Regions from separate parts of the Homo sapiens genome. Here region 1 is linked to region 2. The links come from fine-mapping of genetic effects on gene expression. A gene starts in region 2. The other region holds a variant in brackets. All regions are shown on one strand. Distances are from middle to middle. Region 1 overlaps SIRT5 (sirtuin 5). Region 2 holds the start of SIRT5 (sirtuin 5).

Region 1 (2,913 bases), 31 kb before region 2:
TGGATACGACAAGAAAGGTGAGCTCCAATCAGCAGATCCCTACTCAAACAAAAGGCCTTTAGCTCTATTCCAAAAAAAAAAAAAAAAGCAGGCCAAGTGTGTTGGCTCACGCCTGTAATCCCAGCACTTCGGGAGGCTAAGGCAGGTGGATCTCTTGAGGCCAGGAGTTTGAGACCTGTCTGACCAACATGGTGAAATCCCGTCTCTACTAAAAATACAAAAATTAGCCAGGTGTGGTGGTGCACGCCTGTAATCCCAGCTACTCGGGAGGCTTAGGTGGGAGGACTGCTTGAGCCCGGGAGGCAAAGTTTCCAGTAAACCAAGATTGCGCCACTGCACTCCAGCCTGGGCAACAGAGCAAGACTCTGTCTTAAAACAAAACAAAACAAAAAACAAACAAAAAGCAAATGAAGGTAGATTTATGCTTTATATCAAAATGTTTAAAGTATGTATGTGTCCTTTTCTATTAGTCTTGTTTTCAGTGGCTTTTTGAATGAACAGACCAACTAAGCCCTGACTGCATGGACTAGGAGGGCTTCCCTACCCGCCCTTGACAGCACAGCCAGGGAGAGCGCTGGACTTCCCTAACACACACGGTCAACTATCGCTTCAAAGCAGTGACCTCTTCACACCCTAGATAGGTAACTATATAACCACAACAATCTATAAAACTCTTCTACCTAACAATTCCTTAGACTTCTAAACTCCAACAGCAGGTAGCTTGGGTGTCTTCCCTCCCCAGAGCCCCCAACTCCATTACTTTACTGCTCGCCTCTCCTGGGACTTCCTCACTCCACTCCAGCCACACTGAGGGGCCTCTGCTCCAGGTGGTCCCAGTGTCTGAAAAGCTCTTATCCCAGATTATGTCTTCGGCTGCCTCCTTCACCTCCTTCAAGTCTTTGCTCCAATCTCTTCTTAATGAGGTTTGTGCATCTTTACTTTGTGCAGTCTCTTAGCACCTGCTCACGTGCTGTAGAATGTGTACCTTATGTTCACTGCTTACCTGTCTGCCTCAACCACTAGAATATAATCTTTCCTTGGTAGATATTTGTTTTGTTTACTGATATATCCTATCTTAAGCACTTAGAAAAGTGTCTGATACATAGTGGATACTTACAAATATTTGTGGACTTTAATTAAATTCCAACATTTAGAGAAATTTAAAGATCAACAGGGCACAACATAGTGGCTGCAGGGCACAGTGGGCCAAAGGTGCTTTGAAGGCCCTGGCCACCAGCTCCCTGCAGCGACAGTCCCATTTTTGCCTCAGCGAATGTACAAATCCTACAAGCCAAGGCCCCCTGGGGTTGAGTAACAGTCAAAACACTGAGGTTTAAATTCAAAAATGCCTAGGGTTTATTGGAATAGTCAGGGTTTATCAGAAATCATCCAATATAAGCATCGGACATGGGGAAAACGACAAAACCAAA[A/T]CTGGAACTAATTAACACCTTGAAAATAGAAATACATTCCTGTGGGAGGAGAATTCTATGCCTTTGTCACTAGATTAGAACTGGGGCAAAGAATCTGAACAACTTGTGTAAGGCCTAAGGTGTCTTGTGAGATCCAAATCCTTATTAAAATATAGGCAGCATTCTAGCTGCCTATTTAGGTAACAAAGAAAATCAGGTTAAAAGTAGCAGAGAACATTATTCCATTTTTTTTTTCTCCGTAACCTAGAGCAGGGGTTAGAAAACTTTTTCTGTAAAGGGCCACACAGGACATATTTTAGGCTTTGCAGACCAGCCAGTCTCTGTTGCAACTATTCACCTCTGTCATCCTAATGCAAAAGCAGCCACACACAATATACAAACATATGGCCACAGCTGTGTTCCAATGAAACCTTATTTACAGATACAGGTGGTGGGCAAATTTGGCCCACAGGCAGTAGTTTGCTGACCCCTGACCTAGGGTAAAGTTCAACCAAAATCTGTTAAGCACGAGATATACAATTCTGCCATTGTTAAGCTCTGTGTTTAAACAGTCCTCTCAATTGCTCCAGGGTTGGTTTCTGCCTTTGAAAAATTGAGTAGGATGAGATGACTATCACCAGCATCTCTTCTAAATGTCAGCTTTGATGATGCCAAGAAAAAAGCATTGCTGGCTTCATTGATCAGTTACTCCTTCATTGATGAGATGACAGTTCTTGTGGTCAGTCTGGTTGATAAGTAGCTTGCCAAATTGATAAGAATTTCTAACTAGCAAGTAGCCTGTTTGTTAGAGACAATCATAGGTTTTCAAGACAATATGAAGCTGAAGAATTTTGGCTGAAGTAGCAGCTGAAACAGGTCTGTGGTTTTAGGAGGCTTGACTTGAGCAGTGATATATATTACATGCCAAGAATCTCTCCTGAACTGGCAGGAAAAACCACCAAGTTCAGTTTCTTTCACATGAAGACACAGCCACCATATCCAAGGGATGCTGGGCCCCTGCTGCTCAGTCCATGGCATGGGAGGTGGGGGCCAACTCTAAACTTGGGTTGTGGAAATACTCCAGTTTTATTTTCTTCTTTTTCTCTATCTGCATTTTCTTGCTTTTCTACAATGATGACTTGTTTTAATTCTTTATAATAATTAGAGATGAGATGGAGATCAAATGACTGAAAAGAAACCACATTAGAAGAACCAAACTGGGGACATAGCTCAGGTCCTGCTTCACAAAGTTTATCCTGTCCCACTCTTCGAGTTTTCTGATGGTCTTTCAAACAGACAGGAGGCTTGAGCTGCCTAGCTCCGGTATTACTACGCTTAGTCATGCTAAGTGGCCCAGCTGCTCCACATAGGTGCCACAACACAAATCAGACGGAGGCTCAATGTGCATTTTTCAGGAGATAAGTTAGAAGATCATTTAACTTTTTATCTAACAGCTTTATTGAGATTTGATTCACATACAATCCACCTATTTCAAATATATAAT
Region 2 (2,913 bases):
TCACAATAACCAAGATATAGAAGCAACTAAGTATCCATCAACTGAGGACCGGATAAAGAAAATGTGGCACATATATACAATGGAATACTATACAGTCTTAAAACAGAAGGCAATTCTGTCATTTGCAACAACATGGATGAACCTGGAGGACATGAGGCCAAGTAAAATAAGCCAGGCACAGAAGGACAAACAGCACATGATCTTACTTATATACTTGGGGTCTAAAAAAGTTGAACTCATAGAAGCAGAGTAGAATGATGGTTACCAGGGGCCTGGCAGAGGGCTGATGTGGAAGGGAGGGATGTTGGTCAAAGGATACAAAGTTTTAGTTAGGTAAGAGGAGTAAGTTTTAGTGATCTACTGCACAGCATGGTGACCATAGTTGATGATGTATTGTATATTTCCAGGAGAGTAGATTTTCACCACAAAAAATAAGTAGGTGAGGTGATGGATATGTCAATTAGCTTGATTTAATCTTTCTACAATGTATACATATATCAAAACATTACACTGTACGCTATAAATATATAAATTTGTCAATAAAAATAATTATATAAATATATATTTATATAAAACAAAATACATGCTAAGGATAATGCAATGAACTGCAAAAAGTTGTACAGGCTCCCAATAAATAATTTTTGAACGCCTAAGAGCTAAATAAATGCAATACATCACTCCCAGGTGTCTCCACTAGGGGGCCCCATTCCCTCCCGTTCCATCACCTGCTTTCCTCAAGGTCGTCTCCACCCTCCTATTTGTTGATACCCGGCCTCTGACCCAGTTCATCACTTTCCCGGGCTTCCGGGCGCCACCCTCTTCAGGTTTTCCTCCTACCCCTCCAGCCCTGCCCCTCTGGATCTCCCATCCTCCCAGCGCGCCAGACTGCATGCGGCCTCCCCGCCCTGTGTCCAAGAGGCAGCTTCCACTCCACGCGGGCAAGCCTGAGCTCCAGAGCCGTCCTCAAGCCGCCTCCCCCCGAAGCACTGGGACTTCATCCTCCCGGCTACTACTCGTGCCCAGGGACTAGGCCCTGAGCCTTCCCTTCTCGCACGCCCCATAGCCAAGCTGCTCAGCAGAACCTGACGGCTCCACCTTCAAACTACGTCCGGAATCCGACCCCTCTCCACGCCCACTGCCTCCACCCCGGCCACCTTCCTCGGTCACCCTGGCAGCTGCAATGACCAGGGTGACCTTTCTGAAAAGGGAGGCTCTGTTCGGAGCCCTCGCGGGGCTCCCCAGCACAGCGGCCTCCCATGCCCACCTGCTCGGGTGGGATTACTTTCCAACCCCGTTTCCATCCCCCTCCCTGGTCTCCAGCCGCAGCGACCCCCACGCAGAGCCCGGAAGACCTTGGGCCCCGCACATGCTGCCGGCCCGCTAAGAGCTCTGGGTACCCCCGGAGCGCCTTCCAGGCTTTCTCCTAGAGGCGCTGTGTCCCGACCGCGCTCCGGACCTGAGCCACGGCTCACCTGGGGCAGCTCGCGCCCCCGAATACAGTCTCCCACGCCCCGCCCCCCGGGGTGCCTCCCTCCCAGCTCTCTGTACCCACCCACCATCCCCCACATCCCTTCCTCCAACCGCTAGCCAGTCACCAGCCCGGGACCGCAGGGCAGAGGCCGGGCCGCGCATGCGCACCGCGGACCGGTGCCACCTCCGCTCGCGAGCCCGCGGCAGGCCCTGGGCGGTGCGCGCAGTCCCGCGAGAGCAGTGCTTGGTCGGGACCTCGAAGCCGGAGCCCGAGCGGGAGAGGCCGCGGAGACCCCGGCCCGGCGCAGGCAGAGACGCACCTGCGGGAGGCGGGCGCGCCGGCTGGAGAGGAGGCCGTGGGGCGGAGCGGCTCAGCGTTCTGCTCGGCTGCAGCGGCCCCTGCCGGAGACCCGGGCGCCGTGGTCTTCTTTATAATTGAAGGATTGTCTCTCTGTTTTTATTTGGGGTGGGGGTGGGGGTGGGGGGCGGCGCAGTGACTTGCTTCGACTTTGTCAGCTTCCAGGGTTCATTCCACTGCCCAAATATGTAGTGAGTTACTACCGGCTTTGCTTCCTCCTTCAGCAAACGGCTGGACCACACAACTTCAGGAGAGAGGATTTTAAATGTTAGGGTCATTTTCCCTAAAACGATTTCAAATGACGGTGAGTTGGTTCCCAGGCTAGGCCACCTAACCTCGAACGCAATGACGAGTGCACTCTGACTGCTGAGCTGAGAGCCTTCCGTGGCTCTGGGACCCAGTGACTCACGTGGCTCCGCATGTCCCCGTTCCCTTAAAATCGGAGTCTTTCCTTTTCTTGGATTCCGGCTTGCCACCAGCACCACTTGGCAGAATGGAATTGCTTGCGGGCATGTCAGTGGACTAGAAAGGGAAGTAAGTGGTCTGAGAACTTGGGGGCCAAAAATGTTACATTAACATTTTTTGCCTACCTAAAATCTCAGCCACTTCCCACAGTTTGGCTGGAAATTCAGCCCATGTTGAGGCCCTTCTCATTCCTGCAGGTGTTACCAGCAACTCAGAGGTTTATGGAGTAACGAAATTGGGGAGGGCCTCACATCCGGCTGCTGTTTTTCCCCCTAACGTGTATGGTGCTTATTCTGAGCCAGACACTTTTAAGAACTGCACATTATTAACCATTTTAAATCGTCCCCACCACCTGATGAAATAGGTACTGTTATCCCCACTTTATGGGTGGGGAAACCGAGGCCCAGGGAGGTCAAGTAACTGCGCAAAGCACAAAACTGTTGAGTAGTAGTGTTACCAGGGCAGTCCTGGAGAAATCGCTCAGAGGGCAAAACTGAGAGCTCATTATTTTCTTAAACAGTAGACAGCTGAAAATGCTCATTGTTTTTTAAACCGTTTTGTTTGTTTGATTTTTTTTCCTAGTCTCTTTATCTATAGGTAACCCAGCTTAAAACAACTGC

Evidence for each region.
Region 1: its variant is fine-mapped to the expression of SIRT5 in whole blood (TOPMed, PIP above 0.99).

What each region holds. Positions count from the first base shown.
Region 1 is chr6:13,604,159-13,607,071 of GRCh38, reverse strand. All of the region lies in intron 9 of SIRT5 (sirtuin 5), which reads right to left. LOC105374938 (a long non-coding RNA gene) reads left to right here. Exons shown (of 2, transcript XR_007059460.1): 1 at 1-641. Among named protein-coding and RNA genes, the nearest start is that of NOL7, 9.7 kb to the left of the region's middle. The variant A/T (reference allele first, on the strand shown) is at 1,431.
Region 2 is chr6:13,573,184-13,576,096 of GRCh38, reverse strand. It overlaps SIRT5 (sirtuin 5), which reads right to left and starts at 1,496. Exons shown (of 10, transcript NM_012241.5): 1 at 1,353-1,496. It overlaps LOC105374937 (a long non-coding RNA gene), which reads left to right and starts at 1,663. Exons shown (of 2, transcript XR_926497.4): 1 at 1,663-2,132; 2 at 2,876-2,913. RefSeq lists enhancers at 559-1,144, 734-1,213, 1,145-1,731 and a silencer at 1,424-1,943.